4 linked regions of the Homo sapiens genome follow. The gene in region 1 interacts genetically with each later gene. Each region holds a gene or a part of one and is shown in the gene's direction. Other genes may lie near its edges. The genes, in order: MRPL19, GATB, MTRES1 and PGD.

Evidence for each region.
Region 2: changes in MRPL19 (region 1) and GATB together harm fitness less than expected from each alone (positive genetic interaction), as found in Homo sapiens cells (one large-scale study listed by BioGRID).
Region 3: changes in MRPL19 (region 1) and MTRES1 together harm fitness more than expected from each alone (negative genetic interaction), as found in Homo sapiens cells (one large-scale study listed by BioGRID).
Region 4: changes in MRPL19 (region 1) and PGD together harm fitness more than expected from each alone (negative genetic interaction), as found in Homo sapiens cells (one large-scale study listed by BioGRID).

What each region holds. Positions count from the first base shown.
Region 1 is NC_000002.12:75,648,649-75,654,675, forward strand, and holds part of MRPL19 (large ribosomal subunit protein bL19m), read left to right. Parts: intron 1-1,660; exon of another isoform or gene 1,661-3,000; intron 3,001-3,493; coding exon 3,494-3,612; intron 3,613-3,874; coding exon 3,875-4,009; intron 4,010-6,027.
Region 2 is NC_000004.12:151,752,926-151,758,952, reverse strand, and holds part of GATB (glutamyl-tRNA(Gln) amidotransferase subunit B, mitochondrial isoform 1 precursor), read left to right. Parts: intron 1-30; coding exon 31-181; intron 182-6,027. UniProt on the Homo sapiens protein: Allows the formation of correctly charged Gln-tRNA(Gln) through the transamidation of misacylated Glu-tRNA(Gln) in the mitochondria. The reaction takes place in the presence of glutamine and ATP through an activated gamma-phospho-Glu-tRNA(Gln).
Region 3 is NC_000006.12:107,025,307-107,031,905, forward strand, and holds the start of MTRES1 (mitochondrial transcription rescue factor 1), read left to right. Parts: upstream 1-2,892; 5' UTR 2,893-2,965; exon of another isoform or gene 2,966-3,540; coding exon of another isoform or gene 3,541-3,618; intron 3,619-4,703; exon of another isoform or gene 4,704-4,798; coding exon of another isoform or gene 4,799-4,801; intron 4,802-6,599. UniProt on the Homo sapiens protein: Mitochondrial RNA-binding protein involved in mitochondrial transcription regulation. Functions as a protective factor to maintain proper mitochondrial RNA level during stress.
Region 4 is NC_000001.11:10,414,421-10,419,421, forward strand, and holds part of PGD (6-phosphogluconate dehydrogenase, decarboxylating), read left to right. Parts: intron 1-2,566; coding exon 2,567-2,697; intron 2,698-2,955; coding exon 2,956-3,089; intron 3,090-4,405; coding exon 4,406-4,505; intron 4,506-4,996; coding exon 4,997-5,001. UniProt on the Homo sapiens protein: Catalyzes the oxidative decarboxylation of 6-phosphogluconate to ribulose 5-phosphate and CO(2), with concomitant reduction of NADP to NADPH.

The sequences.
Region 1 (6,027 bases):
GGAGTTCGAGACCAGCCTGGCCAACATGGCGAAACCCCCATTTCTACTAAAAGTACAAAAAAAAAAAAAAATTAGCCAGGTGTGGTGGCATGTGCCTATAATCCCAGTTACTCGAGAGGCTGAGGCAGAAGAATTGCTTGAACACAGGATGCCGAGGTTGCAGTGAGCCGAGATCGTGCCACTGCACTCCAGCCTGGGCGATAGAGCAAGACTCTGTCTCAGAAAAAAACAAAAACAAAATTATACGAAACAATATATGTTGCCCAGACATACATGCATATGAAAAGTAAAAAGAAATGTAAGGGGGGCCTTCTGAAACTTTGCCAAACAGTCAAACCTAACTTTACCAGTATTGGTACCAGTTGATATTATGTGTCTCCTGATGTGACAGAATAAGTTGTTCACATCATCTCCCTGTAATATTCTTACTAAAATTATTTAACCTTAGTCTAGGCATGTGGAAACAATCCAGAATCCAGAGATGAGATAGTAGGCCTTGACTGTTCAAAAAAGTTAATGTTATAAAAATACAAAGTTGGAAAAAAGTCCTAGTCTGAGAGACTAATGACCAAATATGTGTGAAGCTTGATTGTATTTTGAATTGGGCAACGAATAGATGTAAAATACCTTCCCAGGATAATGACATACATTTGAGTATGAACTCTGTATTAGACCAAGCTTGTCCAACCCACAGCCCAGGACAGCTTTAAATGTGGCCCAACACAAATCTGTAAACTTTCTTAAAACATATGAGATTTTTTTTGTGCCTTTTTTTTTTAAGCTTACCAGCTATTGTTGGTGTCTTTTATGTGTGGCTCAAGATAATTCCTCCAGTGTGTCCCAGGGAAGCCAGATGATTGGATACCTTTGTATTAGATTATGTTATCAAATTAATGCTGACTTTTATAGGTGTCAGAAGGGTATCGTGATAATATAGGAGCAAGTCCTTATTCTTAGCATAAGCCTTCTAAATTATTGAGGGATGAAATGCCTTGCTGTTCCATTTTTTTGAGACAGAGCCTTGCTTTGTCATCCAGGCTGGAGTGCAGTGGCATGATCTTGGCTCTGCAACTCCTACTCCTGGGCCCCTCCCTACTCAGTCTCCCAAGTGGCTGGGACTACAGGTGCCCGCCACCATGCCTGGCTATTTTAAAAATTTTTTTGTTGTAGAATGAGGTCTCACTATGTTGCCTAGGCTGGTCTGGAACTCCTGGGCTCAAACGATCTACCCTCCTCGGCCTCCCAAGTGTTGGGATAACAGACGTAAGCTACCACACCTGGCTGACATTTTCAAATGGTTCAGAAAAAAATGATATGTGTATATAAAGCAAATATAGCAAAATTTTAGCAGTTGGTAAAAGTGGATGAAAGATCTACAGGTGTTCATTGTATTACTATTTTTTGGTAGGCTTTAAAATTTTCAAAGTAGAAAATTGAGGAAGAGAAAGAAATTCATGGGAATAATCACCAAATTTAGGATAGTAATGAACTATCCTAAATACACAGGGGCTTCCACAATATTGATAATTTATTTCTTGAGGTGGGTGGTAAAGACATGAATATTCATTGTACTGTCATTTATACTTTTTATGTAGATTAAATATTTCATAATGAGCTTAAAATCAGTTAAAGAAGAAAAAAAGAAGATTATTATTTTTTAAGCAAAAGGATTTCACCTTTGTAAGACTTACACAATTTTCACATAGCTTCATTTCTACAATCACAACAATCCTGAGGTAAACAGGCAGGGTCTAATCATTCTCTTTTTACAGAGGGAGAACCAGCAACTTAGGGAAATCAAAACGGGGACACTAACAGGATTTCTGTGGAAATTTAAGTAAATGAGAATTTATGGTGAATTTTTTATTCTAAAACGAATACCTCACCTTGGCCAAAATGGGACATTACCCAAGGTCCCCTACTAGGCCAGAGGAGAAAAGGAAGGACTTACCTCCTACAGAGGCACAAACAAGGCAGACTAGGACCCAGCAGTTGCCTAAGGCCCAAGGGTCTCCAGTTAGGAGAATGTGAAATGCAGGGATGTGAGACTGGCCTAAGGTATAGGAAGAGCGGTAAACAGAAGAGAAGAGACGAGGAGGGGGAAAAGCAAGAATTATTAAACGTGGTCAAGGAGCGAAGAGCACTATGAAGCCTCAGGATTTCTTCAAGGGATACTGCTGTGCCAGGTCTAGAGGGCAGAAAGATACAACCACGAGACCCCAGGACTACCAAGCTGATGGGATTACCTAGCCTCTGGACAGCACCTTCTGATTGGAAGCAAGGAAGCACACTAGAAAGGCTGCAGTACAGAAGGCTCAGAGACAGTCAGTAGGGAGTAGAAGGGCCTCTGCTGTTCTGGGAAGATTCTTACAGCATAAACAAGCTCTTACTGTGCCTAAGAGAAAGGGAGAGGGAGGCAAGGAATGTATCATGGCCTTAAGAACTTTCTAGAGGTTCATATTTATTGGCATTTGACCTAGAGTCCTTGCCATGGGCAAGGTGCATCCCTGGGCCATGGATAGGAAAATCAGCATCCTACTTTCTCTTCAGTTCGATCTGTTAATCCACCAACCCAAATCCCTCCCACCCGCACCTGTCATCCAAGGAAGAGAAAATGGTTCAGGGACACGATGTGCTGCAGCTGTGTCTCTGGATTTGTAGGTCTCTCCTCGACTTTTCAGCTCCTACACGATTCCTTGGGGCAGGTGACCAGTGAATGACACCGCATATGTACCTGGCTTAAAGTTACTGACTCGCTGCCACTTGGAGACCTAGCTGTCCTCTGGACTCATCATTGCAATGATTCCATCAAAGGAAGAGCTAGTGCAGTCATATACCATCTCAGTTACTCTTCGTCTGTAGATAGGTGTTACAGTTGTCAGAACCTTCATATTCAAACTGGTCTATAGTCTTGACCAGCAAACACAGCCAACAAGCCTGCAGATGCCCCAGGTCCTTCAGCACCATCTCCAGGGCCATCTTCTCTGATCAGGAAGATCATTTTAAAAGTCAATTTATAATTAGTGATTTATATGTTGATGTCTTTTCTGACATAATTTATTATAGCATGTATAGCTCAGTGTGAGGCCTGTAGTAATGGTTATAGGCTTTGGAGACTGACCAACATACCTACATTTAAATCTTGATTTGACAGATTTATAGCTAATGTAGCAATGGGTTAGTTATTTACCTTTTTCAAGCTTCAGTTTCTTGCTCTGTAAAAAGGAGATGACACCAAACCCACATGGTTGCTAGAAGGATTAATTTATGCTATAGATGTTTCATAAAGCTTTTAACAAAATACCAGGTGAGTACTCAGGAATTGTTAGCTATTTTCATGAGCATTAACAATTTTAGAAATAAGATTGACTTTTATTTAGACAATGAAGAATAAAATACATCAATATCATATTTAATTTCTTTGAAAAGCAACAATTTTTCTTCTAGCAGCCTTTTGAGTTTACTTTTAATTATTTATTTGTATTTTTTACAGGTTCTTGAGTCCTGAATTCATTCCTCGAAGGGGAAGAACAGATCCTCTGAAATTTCAAATAGAAAGAAAAGATATGTTAGAAAGGAGAAAAGTACTCCACATTCCAGAGTTCTATGTTGGTCAGTAAGAGCTGTATGTTTTTATTATTAGTAATTAGGATGGCTAGTTTGTGATTGGATGGTTAGTTTTCTTAAAAAGCAAAAGAAGATTGTTTTTTACATATCTGGGTTATGCTCATATGAAGTATTTATTCCTACATTAAAACATTTAGGAAGTTAAGTTATCTAGAAATGCTATTTGTTTGTTTCTGCATCTTATATAAAGTTTACTTCTCAGCTGGGTGTGCTGAAAAAAAAGTTCACTTCTCTTTTGAATTTGTAGGAAGTATTCTTCGTGTTACTACAGCTGACCCATATGCCAGTGGAAAAATCAGCCAGTTTCTGGGGATTTGCATTCAGAGATCAGGAAGAGGACTTGGAGCTACTTTCATCCTTAGGAATGTTATCGAAGGACAAGGTAAGTTTTATTTCATCATTTTCATTGTCTAGAAAATGTTATCTCAGGATTCCTTTTTGTTTCTGCATCCTGGGATAAGAAATCTGAAATTTGAAAGTAAAAGGAGACTCTGAGGGAAGATGTGGAGCCTGTGGCTTTAGAATGGATTGAGATTTGAAGTTAATGATTAAATATGGTTGATGGACTTCTTTCTCTTGAAGGCTTCTTATGTTATTGGAACAACAGTCATTAGAAGTAGACTTTGCAAACCATGGCAACATCAAAGAGGGGAATAAATTACTATAAAGCAGTATGGGGATATTTGTTTTAGGAGCAAATAACCCATGAGTAAAACTTTAAGACAAACCTTTAATGTCTTCATGAATTACTTGCTCCTAAAATGAATACCCACATTTTACTTTATGTTATGACACAAAACAAAATTATCACTGTCTTATATGACTTGGGAGGAATTTTAAAAAGGCAAAATTGTGTTTATATACTATGCCTAATAGAGGAACAAGGAGTAAAACTCTAGCAAGATTATTAATTAAAATGGCAGGAACAATTACGTTTATCAAGTTGTGTGCTTCATGAAGTTCCAACAACAAAGTATTCTTATTTTCAAAGAAATTGAAAATGTGAAAGCAGTTGCTGTCTTGCTTATTCTGTAATGACAGTGGGCTGTGCGTGCAGGAATTCAGCAGGACTTAATTGATTTGTGCCTTCAATCTGGTCAAATACTTGGAGAGGCCTTGTAATAGAAGTAAATGAGCATAGGAGTGAGTCATTTGATTTTCTTTAAGCATTAAGATAGTAATAGTTTCTACTCTACATGGTTCTAGCCAATCAACTGTGAGATACTGTATTTGAAGTACTGGACACAGAATACTCAAAAAGGATTAGCTCCCTCTTGCCATTCTCTGTAGTATGTCTGACTGTTGTAACCTGCCTCAACCTTCCCCATCACTGCTTCCTGCATTAGTGTTTCCTTCTTGTTCGGTGGCTTTGTATACCATCTGTATAATGATAACTTCCAAATTTATAACTCCAGGACTGACCCTTTTTAAGTTCCAGATTTGCAACTATCTGCAACTATCTGATCAACACTCTATTTGGATGTCTTACCAGCATAAGTTGAAAGCAGAACTCTTTATTTCCCCTTGCAAGGTGTTCCATTCACAGTCTTTTCTATTTCCATAAATGGTACCACTCTGCCTACCCACTTACTTTCACACATGCAGTCAATCAAGTTTTCTTGGCACAGTCTCCAAAAAATATATCACAATTTTGCCTGTTCTTCCCTCTACATTGCTATCACCCTCATCCATGTCACCATCATCTGCTTGCATTTGTGCAGTCTCTCTGGTTTACATTTCTGGTGGCTTATTCTGTTCGTGCTGTTGTAACAAAATGCTACAGGCTGGGTAATTTAGAAAGAACAGAAATTTATTTCTCACAGTTCGGGAGGCTGGGAAATCTAAGTTCAAGGTGCTGGCAGGTTTTGTATTTGGTGAGGCCTCCTTCCCTGCATCCAAGATGGTGCCTTGTTGCTGTGTGCTCTGGAAGGGCCAAGCACTGTGCCCTCACATGGTGAAAGGTGGAAGGGCAAAAGGCAAAACTAGTTCTCTCCATCCCTTTAATCCACTAATCCTTAATCAAAGGAGCTTCTAACCAAAGTTGGAACTTAATATTTTACTTCTTTTGTACCATTAGTCTTATTACTCTTAACATGGAAGATTGATTTTTCTTCAAGTAATTGGGAGATAAAAAACGTGACATAGGGAAGAATTCAGACTTTCTCTGAAGTTACTACTATGAGAATTGAAGAGATATGTGACTCAACATATTTCTAGAAGCCATTTTTTTCTTTTTTAGACTATCATTCCAATTCAGACTTTCTAACTTTATATTTAAATGGATTTTAGCTTATTTCTATTTCTTTCAGTAATCTTTATCTTAAAAATTTCAAATTAACGGCACATTTTCTACATGCAAAACTTTGTGCTAATTCCTTTATGAAATGCTTTTACTGCAGT
Region 2 (6,027 bases), on another chromosome or scaffold:
ACATCTTAACCATTATCTCTTTCTTCTTAGTGAACACAAATGGGCTGCTGTGGTAGGTTTGGAAATTCATGCCCAGATTTCCTCCAACTCTAAACTCTTCTCTGGATCTCAAGTTCGCTTTTCAGCACCTCCAAATTCTTTGGTTTCTTTTTTTGATGCATCTCTACCTGGAACTTTGCCGGTAAGATTCTTATTTAATCCTATTTTCATTAGAAAAATGTTTATTTTATATTGAACATGGAAAATTATTTTCTTGTTTTAATAATAACACAACTCTTTGGAAATACTTATTTAGGGAGTTTTGGGTGAAGCGGGATATATTAAATGTTTTCTGAAGACCCATCTCTGTGATGCTGTTTCTAAGTCTGAATATATTCATACATGTATTCATCACTTCACAAACATTTTAGCATGTCTACTAATACCAGACATTGGGCTTTGAGCTGGGTCATAAAGATGATCCTTGCCTTTAAGGAGTTCAAAAACTAGTAGGGGAGATGTGTCTTATAAACAAACAGAGAACAGTGTGATTCCTTCTTTGAAGGTAATATGCAGAGGATGATTTCGAAACCCAGAGGAGGGACAACTAATTCAGTAAAAGAAAGGACTGTTGTGAGAAATTGAAGTAGGGGTACTTTAGGTTAAGGAAGGGTTACTGAAGAGGTGGTGGCCTGAGCTATTTGAGAAGCCCAATAAAATTTAGGCAGATAAATGAAGGAGGAGGAGGAGTCAACTCAAAGCAAGCAGTGTATATTACATGATTTTACAGTGTAAGGCCAGTAATGATTGTGGTTATTGCAAATTAAGAAACACTCAATAATGTAGAAAACAGCCATAATATGCAGTGAGTTAACTATTGTACTCACTTAACCACTCATTTTTACTTGATCCTATGGAATGACTGGGCCCAGTATACTCATCAGCAAGACTTTTGGCATATATTTTTATATAATTGGTTGAATTTTTAAGAAAAGTATGAAGGGAACAAGTAAATGTTTTAGCTAATAAATAGCATATGGTCTGTCCAGGACCTATAATATCAACTGTGTTTGGGGTTTCCTGCCATCTTTGGAGGAAATGTGTATCCATGGTGGTGACAAAGGTGGGGAGAGGCAGACATTGTCATGGGTAAATTCCATGCTCTCAAACATTTAAATAAGAGTGGAAGCTGGTTGAGGCCGGGCGCGGTGGCTCACGCCTGTAATCCCAGCACTTTGGAAGGCCAAGGTGGGCGAATCACAAGGTCAGGAGATCGAGACCATCCTGGCTAACACGGTGAAACCCCATCTCTACTAATAGTAAACTGCAAAAAATTAGCCGGGCATGGTGGTGGGCTCCTGTAGTCCCAGTTACTGGGGAGGCTGAGGCAGGAGAATGGCGTGAACCTGGGAGGCAGAGCTTGCAGTGAGCTGAGATCGCGCCACTGCACTCCAGCCTGGGCGACAGAGCGAGACTCCATCTCAAAAAAAAAAAAAAAAAAAAAAATCTGGAAGCTGGTTGAACTGAGCACTGGCAGGCTTGCAGAGGTATACTTTTCTCAGTCACTGACCAAAGTGGAAGATTCTGGGCAGTGCCTCCAGTATGCCTGCCTCACTCAGCTTTGGTTGTATTGGGGCAGCATCTTTGTCTTGGAACTTTTCTCTTATCGCATTTTCTGTCATGGAGGACTCCCTTCCCTGCAGACCATATCAAGGATCACCTTTGATTTGCTGCTGGGTCCCTCTGGGAGAAGATAGATGTGGAGGTGTGCCCTCTTTCTCTCTCTCTGACTTAGAGATCTATCTATGGAAAGATTTTTTGTTTATTTGAGAAGAGTGAATATTTTGGTTATAAATATATGACATCTTTTTTGGGCAGAGATTCAGATATAGTAGAGATACAATAATATTTATTGTAAAATGGAAGGCAAGTTGTCATAACACCTCTACATTTTCCCTTCCAGATTCAAAACATTTTTTTCCCATGTTGTAGTTAATTATCAAGAGATTAGGCATAAGCTCTGAGTTCATCCTAGGTTTTTCCAGCTGTGAATGTGATGGCTATCAGGCCATACTTATTACAGTTCACTTTAGAAACAGGTCCATTTGCAGATAAGCATGTTTTCTGTATATAGACTCTCCAGCTGTACCTAAATTTGGTCAAAAATTAGACCAAATTAGAAAAATTCAAAATAATTAAAATGCCAACATTTTAATTGCTTTGTAAAACTTGTCATGCACCAAAAAAGAAGGTGCTTGTTCACTGATAAGCATATCAATAACACAGTGAAGGTGTTTGGGACATTTGAGTGTTGAGAGCTTGGCTTACATTAATTAAATGGCAGACAAAGTCTGGAAATACAGTTTTGTATGAGCTAGGATTTGTTTTCCTCTTCAGAGCCTACAACGCTTATGGTTTAAGTAGCCTAGATGGGTTATTCTGTAGACAGAGGAGATCTACCTCTTCTTCAGAAATGTTTCTGCCTTTAAGGGACCTCATTTTGTACGTGAGCAACATTATACCCAAACTCCCAGAATTAAGCATTGCCATTCAAAACATTTCAAAATCTTTTGATTTACCTCTAAATAGATTTAAAATACACTAAAACCTTTAGACAGTTGTCCTTCCCCTAAGCCCTATGGAGATGTATAAACATGCTCTGATAGCCAGACTCTGCTTATAACTCCATTCATAAGAAACCAATAATTTGAGAATATGTTTGTGCTTCCGAGGATTTTAGTAGAACATTATGTTATTGTTTTGGTCAAGTAAACCAAAGTGTAAGTGTGATTCATGATGATACTTGAAACTCTTTCTGCGCAGGGCTTATATTGCTCCCTTCTCTCCTGCTTCTTCCCCGCCCTCTACCTGGCTGATTGTGCCTTCTCACATGGCTGTGTTCTGCCACTCAGCCCTGAAATGTTGGTTTCCCATGCCCTATTCTTTGGCTCTCAATTCTTCTGTTACCTGTGTTCCCCTGAGTAATCTTTTTACCCTCAAATAAAGCTCCCCTCTCTCTTTTAGGCAAGAAACCTATATCTATTGTGTCCTACTATATATTTCCATCTGAATGATTCATAAACATCTTAAATTCAGCAGTTACAGTGTTAAGCCTGTTATCTTTTCTCCCCAAAGTTTCACTGCCTCCTGACGAAAGAATAAACCAACAAGGGAAAATATATGTAAGAAGAAGCAAAAATCAGTGGGAAAAGGATAAGTTATTTAACTGATGGTTTTGGAATTGGTTAGCTATTTGGAGAAAAAGTATCGCTCATTTCACACATCAAAACAAAGTTCATATATATATAATATAAGTTAAATGTCAAATTAAATCCAGAAATATCTAGGAGAATATTTGTTTGTCCTTGGGTTGGGGAGAAACTTTGTAGGCATAAAAGCAAGAAAAAACAGCTAATTAGGCAAAATGGCAATTTGACTACTTTATTCGCCCAACATGTTTATTGACGTAGTAATTCTTTTAGGAATCTGTCCTTGGAAAATAAACATGTGGGCAAAGACTTATATGCAGAGATGTCTATAGCAGATCTATTTTTAAAGGTAGAAAATTGGAAGTAACCACAGTTTCTCAGTGATGGGGGAATCATTGAGTAAATTATAATACATCAGTACAGTACAACATTATGAAGCCACTGATAATGTTTATAATAGACTTTTAGTGACATAGGACAATGCTAAAGATAAAAATTCTAGTGAGATGAATAGAATTTTCATGTAGATTACTTAATCTTCTTTGCATCAGTTTCTTATAAAATGGAGATAATTGACTCATTGGATTTGTGTGAGAATTAAATGAATCAGTACCTTTAAAACACTTAAAACAGTAATTGCATGTAGTAAGTGCTCTTATTAATTAACAGATAATTAACAAGTAATAACAGGTAATTAATTAAAAAGCTCTTAATAATAGGTAAGGTAAATCTTACCTGCTAGCATACCCATAATGATTGGTGGCTTTTATCTTTACAAAGGCTCTCCTGAGTTATTGTGCACAGTTACGTTGCCAGTGAGAGCAAAAGTAAATGCTACACATAACAATTGGTCACTTAACCTTGATTTCACCAGTTAAGTGATCTGCCAACAAAAACTAACCTGGGTATCTCATCACCTCAGAGATGTATAGAGAATTAAGTAAATAATGAAAACCAGTAAAAACTAGTATATGGATAAAATTATTTCTGAATTAGAAATCATTACTTTTATTGCGAAAAAGAAGGCTTATGAGCTTTTTTTTTTCCATCTGTAGTTATTTGGAGTGTTTCTTTGGTTCAACATGGTATTGGCTCTTGATTTAGTAAAAAATTAGGATTGTCACTTAAAACAATTGTTATAATGTATAGTCTTTCTGTAGACATTTCATTCTTCTTCTCTGTCGGTTGTGTCTTCATTCACTCAGCTGGCATATATTGGATGCCCACGTTATGCTAGCCCTTGTGTAGCTCTAGTGACACAGTTTTGAACTTGGTAGACGATAGATATGGGTGTTGCCCACATGGAGCATGAACAAGCAAGCAGGCAGTTGCACTACCTTTTAATAAACATGTTAGTCGTGGAAATACAAGGTGCTTGAGGAGCACATAGGAAGAGTATTCAACACAGATATAAGGAATTGATGAAATTGGCCAAGTAGAAAGTGAATAGGATGTACAAAGACCAGAAGAAAAACAACGTGGCTTGCTCTAGAAACTGAAACGTTTTCCATGTGTTGTAGCATAGAATTTGAATATGGGCATTGCAAGAGGTGAGGCTAGAGCAGAAAGCATAGCCTGTACCATATAAGCCCTGATAAAGGGTGTGGATCCCATTTGCAAAGAGGTAAGAAGACGTAAGGAGAGTGCAGGGCCAGAAACTCCAAGGAAGTGAGTGTTTTGAGAAGGAGGGAGTACAAGAACATTGGATGCTACTGAGAGGTCAAGTAAAGTGAGGACTAGGAAGTGCCCATTGGATTTATTAAGAAGGGTATCCTTTGCAAGAACAGTTTGAGTGGGGTGATGGAAACAGAAGGTAGGTGGCAGTGGATTGAGAAATGTCATGGCATGGAGGAAGAAGTGAGTGTGGGCAACTGTTTCAAAAAGTTTTACTATGAAGGACAACAGAATGCAGCAAGTGAAAGGAGACATAGAATCAAGAGAAAACATTTATTGGTCATGTCTTTCTTAATATTGGAGAGACTTGGGAATGTTTAAATGCTGATGAGTTATGTAGTCTATGATAGTGTACACTTAAAATGTGTTTAAGAGGATAGATCTCATGTTAAGTGTTCTTACTGCAATAAAACAAAATTTTTTAAAAATGCTGATGAGAAGGAGCCAATGAAGAAGGGGTAAAGACAGGAGAGGCTTTTGATTAATATGATCAACTGAACACATGCATTTTAATCCATCCTCTCTGTAACCCAGAGAAACCCCACTGAAATCATAGTGAAAGAATGCAAATGTGATAAGCCTACAAAAGAATGGGAGAGGAGACAAGAGTGTGTGAGAGAGAGATGGTAGGTGGAGGAGGGCCTCACTTTGCAGAGGATGCACTGTGACCTAAGTGCCTGCAGGAAGGGACACTAGCGAGAACTGAGATGATGTGTCCTACACAACCTTAAAAACGCTCAGGATGTGGGGGCGTCAAGTATTGTGGAAGGCTGGCTGAGGTGAAAACAAAGGGGTTGAGTCAGAGTCTGAGTACAGTGCAGTGAGATCTGAGCTTCTCTACCTGACCCTCTGCAGCTGCCCTACCCCCATAGGAATGTATAGTCTTTGGAGAAATTCAGCTCATGACACACTTTCCCTGAGGCCACCAGTCAGAGCAAAAGGCGGTATCAGACAGCATCTGTAGTGAACTCCAGGACCTACCCAGTTCTTTTCCCTGCCCCAGTGCGGGAACTTAGGTGGCCTGGTATGTCCATCTTTCCTCTTCCCCTCCTCCCCCAAGCAAGAATCTGCAGGAGCTTCTTTGAAGATTGTGTGACCCTAGTGGGAAGAACATGAGATATTGACATGGTGGGATGTCTCTCAATTTAAAAAAATCTGTCTGGCC
Region 3 (6,599 bases), on another chromosome or scaffold:
TGCCTCACTTAGAAAATGACATTTGTGTGAAAACCTGAAGGAAGTATGGAAACAAATCACGTGGTCAGCTGAGGGAAGAGGATTCCAGATGGAGGGAAGAAAGTGTGCAAAAGCCCTAAAGCAAGACATCATCTGAGGTTTCCAGGGACCTCATCCGGGAATGGCAAGGAGGCAAGTATGGCTGAACCCAGAGAGGGAGGAGGAAGGTGGTGGGAGATGAGGTCAGTAGTGTAGATGAGGTCAGCAATGTAGGTGAGTTCAGATGCAGAAGGCCTCACCAGCCATTGAAAGGATTTTGGCTTTAACTGTAACATAAGGTGGGTAGCCTGGGATGGTTTTGGGTTTTTGGTTTTTTGTTTGTTTGTTTGTTTGTTTGTTTGAGATGGAGTCTCGCTCTGTCACCCAGGCTGGAGTGCAGTGGCGCGATCTCGGCTCAATGCAACCTCCGCCTCCCAGGTTCAAGTTATTCTCCTGCCTCAGCCTCCTGAGTAGCTGGGATTACAGGCGCACACCACCACGCCCGGCTAATTTTTGTATTTTTAGTAGAGAAAGGGTTTCACTATGTTGGTCAGGCGGGTCTCAAACTCATGACCTCATGATCTGCCCGCCTCGGCCTCCCAAGGTGTTGGAGTTACAGGTATAAGCCACCGCGCCCAGCCCAGGAGGATTTTAAGTAATGACAGGATTTGATTTGTGATTTAATAGGATCACTCTGGTTATTGTCCTGAGGATAGCCTGAAGAAAGGTAAGCCGCCAGGCGTGGTGGCTCACACCTATAATCCCAGAACTTTGGGAGGCTGAGGCGGTGGATGACCTGAGGTCAGGAGTTTGAGACCAGCCTGACCAACATGGTAAAACCCCATCTCTACTAAAAATACAAAAATTAGCTAGGTGTGGTGGTGCACGCCTCTAATCCCAGGTGAGACAGAAAGGGAGAAATTGAGTGTATCTCTAAGATATCTGACCTAAGTAACAGGAAGGGTGGAAGACTCATTAACTGAAATAAGGAATGCTGTGGGAGGAACGCATTGAGACCCGGATCTGGGTTTTGGTCCTATCAAGTTTGAGATTTCCGTTAGATTTCCAAGTGAAGATGTTAAGTAGGCAGTTGTAGTCTTGAATGCAAGAGAATGATCTCGGCTCGCAATACAAATTTGAGGATCGTCCATATATAGATAATATTTAAAGCCACGAAATTGTTGGAGATCGACTGGGGAACTAGGATAGATAAAAAGGAAAAAGATTAGAGGTCTAAGTATGGGGCACTTACTCTTTGGCATTCTAAGGATGTAATGAAAAAACAGCTGGCTGGGAGTGGTGGCTCATGCCTGTAATCCCAGCACTTTGAGATGCCAAGGCAGGTGGATCACTTGAGGTCAGGAGTTTGAGACAAGCCTGGCCAATATTGGTGAAACCCTGTCTCTATTAAAACTACAAAAATTAGCCGGGCATGGTGGTGCGTACCTGTAGTCCCAACTACTAAGGAGGCTGAGGCAGGAGAATCGCTTGAACCCGAGAGTGAAGGTTGCAGTGAGCAGAGATCATGCCATTGCACACCAGCCTGGGGGCCAGAGCAGGCCTCATTCTCAAAAACAAAAAAACAAAACAAAACAAAAGAAAAAACAGGGAAGAAGATTAAGTGGCAAGTGAGGTAGGTGAAACCAATGGGGTATCCTATAACTCAAGTAAGTTGAGGAATGAGACCAGACCTTTGGATTTACATTGCAGAGGTCATCTGTGACTTTGACTAGAAGTTTTGTTAGAATGTTGCAGGGTGACATCTTGTTTGGTGTATGAGTCAGAGTTCTCCACAGACAGACCTAATGAGAGAGGGATGGATGGATGGATGGATGGATGGATGGACGAATGGATGGATAGTTGGTTGGGAGGGAAAGGGGAATTGGCTCACGTGTAAATTGCGTTGGTCTTGAAAAGATGTTTCCTTAAACTGCGAGTCTGACGTATTTGCACATTTTTCTGGAAACAACGCCTATATCTCTTGGAGATGTTCAAAGAGGGCGGGCTCGGTGGCTTACACCTGTAATCCCAGCACTTTAAGAGGCTGAGGCTGGAAGATCGCTTCTCTTGAGTCCCAGCCTGGGCAATATGGCGAAACCCCATCTCTACAAACAAAACAAAACAAAACAAAAATTAGCAGGCCGTGGTGGCACACACCTGGAGTCCCAGGTACTGGGGAGGCTGAGGTGGGGAGAACAGCTTGAGCCTGGGTAGCAGAGGTTGCAGTGAGCCGAGATCGCACCATTGCACTCCGGGCAACAGAGTGAGACCCTGTCAAAAAAAAAAATGTTCAAAGGGGTTAGTGGTCCCAGAGAAAGGATCACTTCATTAATAATTAAGATGATTAGCCGGTCATGGTGGCTCACGCCTGTAGTCCCAGCTACTTAGGAGACTGAGGAACGACAATCGCTTGAACCCGGGAGGCGGAGGTCGCAGTGAGCTGAGATTACGCCGCTGCACTCCAGCCTGGGCAAGAGTGAGACTCGGTTTCAAAAAAAAAAAAAAAAGAAAAAAGAATTAAGATGGCCGGGCGCGGTGGCTCACGCCTGTAATCCCAGCACTTTGGGAGGCCGAGGAGAGCGGATCACGAGGGCGGGAGATCGAGACCATCCTGGCTAAAACGGTGAAACCCTGTCTCTGCTAAAAACACAAAAAAATTAGCCGGGCGTGGTGGTGGGCGCCTGTAGTCCCAGCTACTCAGGAGGCTGAGGCAGGAGAATGGCGTGAACCCGGGAGAATGGTGTGCCCCGAGCCTACTTCCCGCGCAGTCCTCCAAGACGCGGCCTCCAGCAGGGGTCGCTGCTTCGCTGCCGCCCTGGCCTCGCGCCCCGCCCGACCCGCTCTCACTGCGCCGGCGCCGGCGGAAGGGGCGGGGCGCAGATAGGGGTAGCCTGGAGGCCTGCAGTCCGCGCGGCCGCGGGGAGGGACGAGAGGGCCTGACGTACAGGTGAGTGCGCCTCTGCTGGCGCGCCGCGCCGGGCCCCCTGCCCGCGCCCCCTGTCACTTCGCCTCTCCGCCCCGCCCACGCTCCCGCCGGGTCTCCCCGTGAGTGTCCCGTGTCCTGCCAGCCTCGGGACGCCCCGCGAGCTCAGGGCTGCGCAGGGACTGTGGTAATTGAGCGCGGCGAAGCCTTCCGTTCCTGCCTCCTGTCGCTCCTGCTGGCTCCGAATGCAGACTGCGAACCCGGGGACGCAGTTGTCCATTTCCTTTGACCTTGGGGACCCAGGAAGGTGCACTGCCCGCGGGGGTGGGGAGGGAGCGAGAGGAATCCGACCCTGTCTCAGCCCACAGCCTCCGAGGTCTCCAAGTAAAGGGAAGGATCTTTAGCTGCATTAGACTTCAAAGCGTTTAGACCAGTTTCTCCATCTTACGGAGCGGTGAACGGGCTCAGGAATGTGGAGCGTTTCCTGGCGTCAAGCAGGTCAAAGTCAGCGCTGCTTTTTTTACAGACACTGCTTTTCTTACAGTCTTCGGTTAGTTCAGATTGTATACCTCTCCTGAAGATGTCACCCAAAACCTCCTATGGGATTCTGCCGTGATCATCTCTCCACTCATCCCACACCAACGCCAAAGAGATCTTTTAAAATGAACTTCCATCAGGTCACTTCCCAGGGTCCATCATTGCGTGTTCTTTTCCTGATTCATTCGAATGCACCCGTCCTCCTGATCAATTTTTATTCCACAGGGTGTTGTTTTGTTTTGTTTTGTTTTGTTTTTTTGAGACGGAGTCTTGCTCTGTCGCCCAGGCTGGAGTGCAATGGCGGGATCTCGGCTCACTGCAAGCTCCGCCTCCCAGGTTCACGCCATTCTCCTGCCTCAGCCTCCCCAGCAGCTGGGACTACAGGCGCACACCGCCACACCCGGCTATTTTTTTTTTTTTTGAGACGCAGTCTCGCTCTGTCGCCCAGGCTGGAGTGCAGTGGCGCGATCTCTGCTCACTGCAAGCTCCGCCTCCCGGGTTCACGCCATTCTCCCGCCTCAGCCTCCCGAGTAGCTGGGACTACAGGCGCCTGCCACCACGCCCGGCTAATTTTTTGTATTTTTAGTAGAGACGGGGTTTCACCGTGTTAGCCAGGATGGTCTCGATTTCCTGACTTCCTGATCCGCACGCCTAAGCCTCCGACAGTGCTGGGATTACAGGCGTGAGCCACCGCGCCCGGCCTGTTTTGTTGTTTTTTTTTTTGACACTCGCTCTGTCGCCGAGGCTAGAATGCACTGGTGTGAACTCGGCTCACTGCAGCCTCCCCCTCCCAGGTTCAAGCGATTCTTCAGCCTCAGCCTCCCAAATAGCTGTGACTACAGGTGTGCACCACCACGCTTGGCTAATTTTTGTATTTTTAGTAGAGACGAGGTTTCACCATGTTGACCAGGCTGGTCTTGAACTCCTGGCCTCAAGTGATCCGCCCGCCTCAGCCTCCCCAAGTACTGGAATTACAGGCATGAGCCACCGCGCCCATACTATTTTTATTTTAGATCTCACTGTGTTGCCCAGGCTGATCTCAAACTCTTGGACACAAGCGAGTCTCCTGCCTTGGCCTCCCAAAGTGCTGGGATTATAGGCGTGAGCCACCTGCCTGACCTCATCTTGCCCTCTCAATCCCCCTTACCCTGCTCCACTTTCTTCCCCCAGTGCATTAACCACCAGCTATCATATAATTTACAGGGTGTTTTTTTTTTTGTCTACCTGTTTCCCCTACTAGACTATAAACTCTACAAGAATAGGAATCTTCGTATTTTTTTCCTCTGCTGAATTCCTAGTGCCCAGATTAGTGCTTGGCACATGGTAAGTGCTTAATTAAGGGGAGGATGCCAGTGTTGCTGAAGCTGAATTTGCAAGAGTCAAATTGGCAGATGAGGTTGGAGAGGAAATGGGGGTTGAGGGAGCACCAGATCCTATAGAGCCTTTAGACCATCGTAGAGACTTTGCTGTTCTCTGAGTGCTTTGGTAGGGATTTGAGGAAAGGAGTGACATCGTATGAATGACTTTATTATGTGCCCACGTGGAGGTGTCAAATAGGCAGCTATTGTGTTGCAGGTCCCCAGGTTCATTGATTCACTAAGAGGACTCAAAAGACTCAGCACGTAGTCATACTCACAGCTGTGATTTATTATAGCAAAAGGATACAAAGCAAAATAAGCAAAGGGAAAAGATGCATGGGACACAGTCTGGAGGAAACCCGGTGCAGTCTTCTAAGAGTCCTCTCCTAGTGGAGTCACATGGGGTATGCTTAATTCTTGCAGCATCAAATTATGACAAGACGTGAGAGATCTATCAGGAAAGCTTGTAGAGCTCATTTTTCCAATAAAAAGTCACATAGGCACTGTCTGCCTAGAATGTGCCAAAATTTCCGCCGCCCAGAAAAAAAGCAGGTGTTTAGAATCACATTGTACAGTTTCCAGCACAGTGAGCCACTCTTATCCAGGTGGGAATTGTGGGAACCCTCGTGAAGTTCAAGTTCTGAGACACTAGCCAAGGGCCAACTTTGCAAGCAGGCATTCTAAGGATAGCAGTCTCAGGCCTGTTATGTTAACTCGTTTCTGCACAGATGTACGAGTCTGGAATTTGGGAGAAAGTTCTGGAATGGGGATATAGATTAGGGTGTGGTTGGCATATAGGTGGTATTTAAAGCCACAGAAATGATTGATGTCTTGATAATGCATTTGTAAGAACTAATTGGGTACATTTAAGAGCTGAGCTGGATAAAGTGAATGTAGAAGAGAAGAGGACCAAAGATAGAGCCCTGGGCCGCTCCAACTTTAAGATATCAGGGAGGGCCGGGCACAGTGGCTCAGGCCTGTAATCCTAGCACTTTGGGAGGCTGAGGTGGGCGGGTCACTTGAGGTCAGGATTTCCAGACCAGCCTGGCCAAGGTGGTGAAACCCTGTGTCTACTAAAAATATAAAAAGTGGCCGGGTGTGGTGGTGGGCGCCTGTAATCCCAGCTACTCTGGAGGCTGAGGTGGGAGACTATGGCTTGAACTGGGGAGGCAGAGGTTGCAGTGAGCCAAGATCGCGCCACCCACTGCATTCCAGCCTGGGCAACAGAGGAAGACCCTGTCTCAAAAAAAAAAAAAAGAAAAAAAAAGAAAAAAGGAGAAGAGAAGGAGGCAGCAAAGGAGTCTTTTCTTTTTTTTTTTTTTGAGATAGAGTTTCGCTCCTGTTGCCCAGGCTGGAGTGCAATGGCTTCGGCTCACTGCAGCCTCCGCCTCCCAGGTTCAAGTGATTCTCCTGCCTCAACCTCCTGAGTAGCTAGGATTACAGATGCCTGCCATCGTGCCCAGCTATTTTTTTTTTTTGAGACGTCTCACTCTTGTTGTCCAGGCTGGAGTGCAATGGCGCAATCTCAGCTCACTGCAACCTCTGCCTCCCGGGTTCAAGCGGTTCTCGTGCCTCATCCTACTGAGTAGCTGGGATTACAGGCACGTGCCACCACATTCAGCTAATTTTTGTATTAGTAGTAGAGACAGGGTTTCTCCATGTTGGTCAGGCTGGTCTCGAACTCCCGACCTCAGGTGATCCACCCACCTCGGCCTCCCAAAGTGCTGGGATTACAGGCATGAGCCACCGTGTCCGGCCAGCAG
Region 4 (5,001 bases), on another chromosome or scaffold:
CTGGAGTTCAGTGGCATGATCTCGGGTCACTGCAACCTCCACCTCCCGGGTTCAAGTGATTCTCCTGCCTCAGCCTCCCGAGTAGCTGGGATTACAGGCATGCGCTACCATGCCTGGCTAATTTTTGTGTGTTATTAGTGGAGACGGGGTTTTACCATATTGGTCAGGCTGGTCTCGAACTCCTAACCTCAGGGGATCTGCCCGCCTCGGCTTCCAAAAGTGCTGGGATTGCAGGCGTGAGCCACCATGCCCAGCAAAGGTGGTTCTAAGAGTAAAATACATAGACTTCTGGCAGGAATGAAAAAGGAGAACGAAGGATGCCTCTCGTGGTTAATGAGAGGCTGATCTTTGCTTCTGGCAGATTGTTCTCACTATATTAAAACAGAATTGGGCCAGGCGCGGTGGCTCACGCCTGTAATCCCAGCACTTTGGGTGACCGAGGTGGGCGGATCACGAGGTCAGGAGTTTGAGTCCAGCCTGACCAACATGGCGAAACCCCATCTCTACTAAAAATACGAAAGTTAGCCAGGCATAGTGACCCGTGCCTGTAATCCCAGCTACTCAGGAGGCTGAGGCAGGAGAATCACTTGAACCTGGGAGGCGGAATTTGCAGTGGGCTGAGATCGCACCACTGCACTCCAGGCTGGGCGACCGAGCAAGACTCCGCCTAAAAAAAAAAAAAGAAGCATCTCAAAAATAATAAAACAGAATTTTTCCTGTTTGCTCCTCTGGATACAGGTTGCCTTTCTCTCCCTTGACTCTTCTCCCCTTTTGACCTCCCTGTTCATTGTGCCTCGCCCTATTGAACTGTGTGGTGTAAGGCAGAGTAAGGAGGAAAGTCGGTGGTTTCTACAGTTCCGTGCTGTATAGAAGGAAGTTGGCTGCTTTTAGCCGATCTGAGCCATAACATAGGTGAGGAGGGAGGGGCCAATAGCTAGGAGCAATTTATTCATCACGGACTCAAGTATATGTGTAAGTATTAGGATCTCAGAATCCTACTCTCCTCCTGTGGATCCATATACCTCTTCCCCCAGGGTGGCTGGGCCCACCCCCTGCTGGGAGCCATCATTATTTGTGAACTAACAGGGAAGTCTTCCAGCTGCCCTCTCCCCCTCTAACAGGAAGGGTTTGCCTCATAGCCTGTTGCACCAGTCATCTTACAAAGCTTCCTTCTAGAAATGCTAAGTCATCCTGTGTGTGCATTTGGGCCAGGAGAGAGGTAGCTGCTTTTGTGTGTTTGGAGTAGGGTTAGCAGTCTCAAGCCATAGCTGCTCCTCTTTCCTCAGAAATAAAGTCCTCTGTTAGTTCCCTGAGATTTTACTTCATTTTGTCTATGGGGGAAAAAGTGGTTAAAGAGTCATTTATTCTAACTATAAGTTGTCAGTTGAGCAAGTCTTTTATAAGGAATACTTTCTGAAAATACTAAATGTCTTAATATTAAAATACTACATTGACTTTTTAATTCAAATGAAGTAAAGTGGTTAAACTTGAATGATTACGGCTATACTGAAAACCGTAAAATATAAAAACCTAACATTTTTTTGAGAGGTGAGTCCGTAAATGTGACTTATCAATGTAAAATCTTCAAAAAAAAAAATTAAGGTCCTCTAAATTGAATTTGAAATTTTACTCATGGACCAACACTGAGTATTCTACATAACAGTGGTTTTTATTTTATTTTACTGGTTTTAGAGACAGGGTCTCACTGTGTTGCCCAGGCTGGAGAGCAGTGGTGTGATCATGGCTCACTGTAGCCTTGAACTCCTGGGCTCAAGTGATCCTCCCACCTCAGCCTGCCAAAGTGCTGGGATTACAGGTGTTAGCCACCTTGCCCAGCCATAACAGTGGTTTCTATCTCTTCATTTTCCCTCAAAACTCCCTTTTGAATTTCATGTTAATCTTTGTGATTGAATACTCATGTTTGTATTGGAAGATTGTCTTAAGAGTTTTAGTTATCAAATTAACTGTTTAGAGCTTCTTATAAAAGTTCCTTCCGATCCATGTCAACTTTTGTGGCCTAAGGTTGAAACTTTCAGCTCTTTGTATAAACAGACTTTCCTGCTCCACCTTTCTTCTGGTTGCTGTGCGAACTTTGGTAATTTTCATGCGCATCCGTGTGAAAAGACCACCAAACAGGCTTTGTGTGAGCAATAAAGCTTTTTAATCACCTGGGTGCAGGCAGGTTGAGTCCGAAGAGTCAGCGAAGGGAGATAGGGGTGGGGCCATTTTATAGGATTTGGGCAGGTAGTGGAAAATTACAGTCAAAGGGGGTTTTTCTCTTACGGGCAGGGCCGAGGGGTCACAAGGTGCTCAGTTGGGGAGGTTCTGAGCCAGGAGAAGGAATGTCACAAGGTTAATCGCTCAGTTAAGGTGGGGCAGGAACAAATCACAATGGTGGAATGTCATCAGTAAAGGCAGGAACCAGCCATTTTCACTTCTTTTGTGATTCTTCACTTGCTTCAGGCCATCTGGATGTATACATGCAGGTCACAGGGGATATGATAGTTTAGCTTGGGCTCAGAGGCCTGACAGTAATCTGTTTCCTCTTCCCGATCTCCCCATGTAGGAGAAGCTGTCTTTGCTCGGTGCTTATCATCTCTGAAGGATGAGAGAATTCAAGCTAGCAAAAAGCTGAAGGGTCCCCAGAAGTTCCAGTTTGATGGTGATAAGAAATCATTCCTGGAGGACATTCGGAAGGTGGGACACAGTCCCTGGCAGTGGTCTTTGTTGGTCCTGCGGAAGGCAGTGGGGGTGGGGGTTGTGGTGGGAGAACACTCGAGGCCACAGGATGGCAGGTGGAATGAAGTTCAGCCTTGACTTGGATCTTGACTTACAATGTTTTCCTAGAATATTGGCCCTTCTGGGATCTCCACTGCTGATGAGAATAAGACTGGTAGACATAAGGCGGTCACTCTCCTAATGGCAATCCTAGTAGGTCTCTGTGTCACTCTTTAGGCACTCTACGCTTCCAAGATCATCTCTTACGCTCAAGGCTTTATGCTGCTAAGGCAGGCAGCCACCGAGTTTGGCTGGACTCTCAATTATGGTGGCATCGCCCTGATGTGGAGAGGGGGCTGCATCATTAGAAGGTAAGTGAGAGGCAGCCCAGGGTCCGACGGGAAGGACTCACACGGCTGTGCAGAAGTGCGATCTTAGGACACTTAGCTTGAGCAGTTTCCAGGGATGGGCACTTAGCCCCATCACTGGACACTGGCACAAGATAGGCTTAGATTATGTGGTTCCCTTCTTCACTGTACCTCAGTTGCTGTAACTAGATTGTCCACACTACACCTTTTTTTTTCTTTTGAGACCAAGTTTCGCTCTTATTGCCCAAACTGGAGTGCCATGATGCGATCTTGACTCACTGCAACCTCTGCCTCCCGGGTTCAAGTGATTCTCCTGCCTCAGCGTCCTAAGTAACTGGGATTACAAGGGCACGCCACCATGTCCGGCTAATTCTTTTGTATTTGTAGTGGAAACAGGGTTTCACCATGTTAGCCAGGCTGGTCTCGAACTCCTTGCCTTGGGTGATCTGCCCGCCTCAGCCTCCCAAAGTGCTGGGATTACAGGCGTGAGCCACTGCGCCCGGCTCCGCATTACACCTACTACACTACACCTTTTAAAGTACTTCTGTGAACTATCGTGCCCTCTGGCCTTGCCTCTTGGGAATTTTGCTCTGTATTTTCATTGAAAATGCCAAATCATAGAAAACGTAGCATTTCTACACATGACGTTACATCGTTCTCATGTTGGCTGAAGATTCATTTGATGAATCTGATTTTTCTGAAGTAGATGATTCTGGTGATTCAGATGATTCTAATATTAGTTCTCTTTAGAAATAACGCCAAGAATAGTTTTTATATTTTATTTTCATATTGAAAATCGTCAGATTTTCTTCAGCCTCAAAAAGCGTGTTTATGTAAAATTAAATGAGCGCTGGCAGCGAGCTGCACTTTTTTTCTAAACAGGAAAAGGGTTAACAGCTTGAAGAAATGAGAAATGTAACTTTGTTTCACTAGGGTATACATCGGCTTCCAGCTTACTTCCCTGTTAGAGTTAAGATTCATTGCATTTGGCCGGGCGCGGTGGCTCACACCTGTAATCCCAGCGTTTTGGGAGGCCGAGGCAGGCGGATCACGAGGTCAGGAGATCCAGACCATCCTGGCTAACACGGTGAAACCCTGTCTCTACTAAAAATACAAAAATTAGCCGGTTGTAGTGGTGCGTGCCTGTAATCCCAGCTACTGGCGAGGCTGAGGCAGGAGAATCGCTTGAACCTGGGAGGTGGAGGTTGCTGTGAGCTGAGATCGTGCCACTCCACTCCAGCCTGGTGACAAAGCGGGACTCCGTCTCAAAAAAAAAAAAAAAAAGACTCATTGCTTTTTTCCCCCCTTGATTATTTCAGTGTATTCCTAGGAAAGATAAAGGATGCATTTGATCGAAACCCGGAACTTCAGAACCTCCTACTGGACGACTTCTTTAAGTCAGCTGTTGAAAACTGCCAGGTATGTAGCCTAGGGCTGGTGCCATGGTTACTCTACCTCCCTGGGGCCATCAGTTGTGATGTTTGGTTTTTTGTTTTTTTTTTTTGGTTTTTTGTTTTTTTGAGACAGAGTCTCGCTCTGTCACCCAGGCTGGAGTACAGTGGCATGATCTTGGCTCACTGCAACCTCCGCCTCCTGGGTTCAAGCGATTCTCCTGCCCCAGCCTTCCTAAGTAGCTGGGACTACAGGTGTGCCAACATACCTGGCTAATTTTTTTTTTTTTTTTGTATTTTTAGTAGAGATGGGGTTTCACCATGTTGGCTAGACTGGTCTTGAACTCCTGACCTCGTGATCCGCCCACCTCAGCCTTCCAAAGTGCTGGGATGACAGGCGTGAGCCACCGCGCCTGGCCTAACCATCAGTTTTTCATTTACCCACATTGATATGAATGAAAATCTATCCGCGTCACCAGGGGCAGATCACTAATCTCTGGCCGTGCGTTTTGTGCTCAGGACTC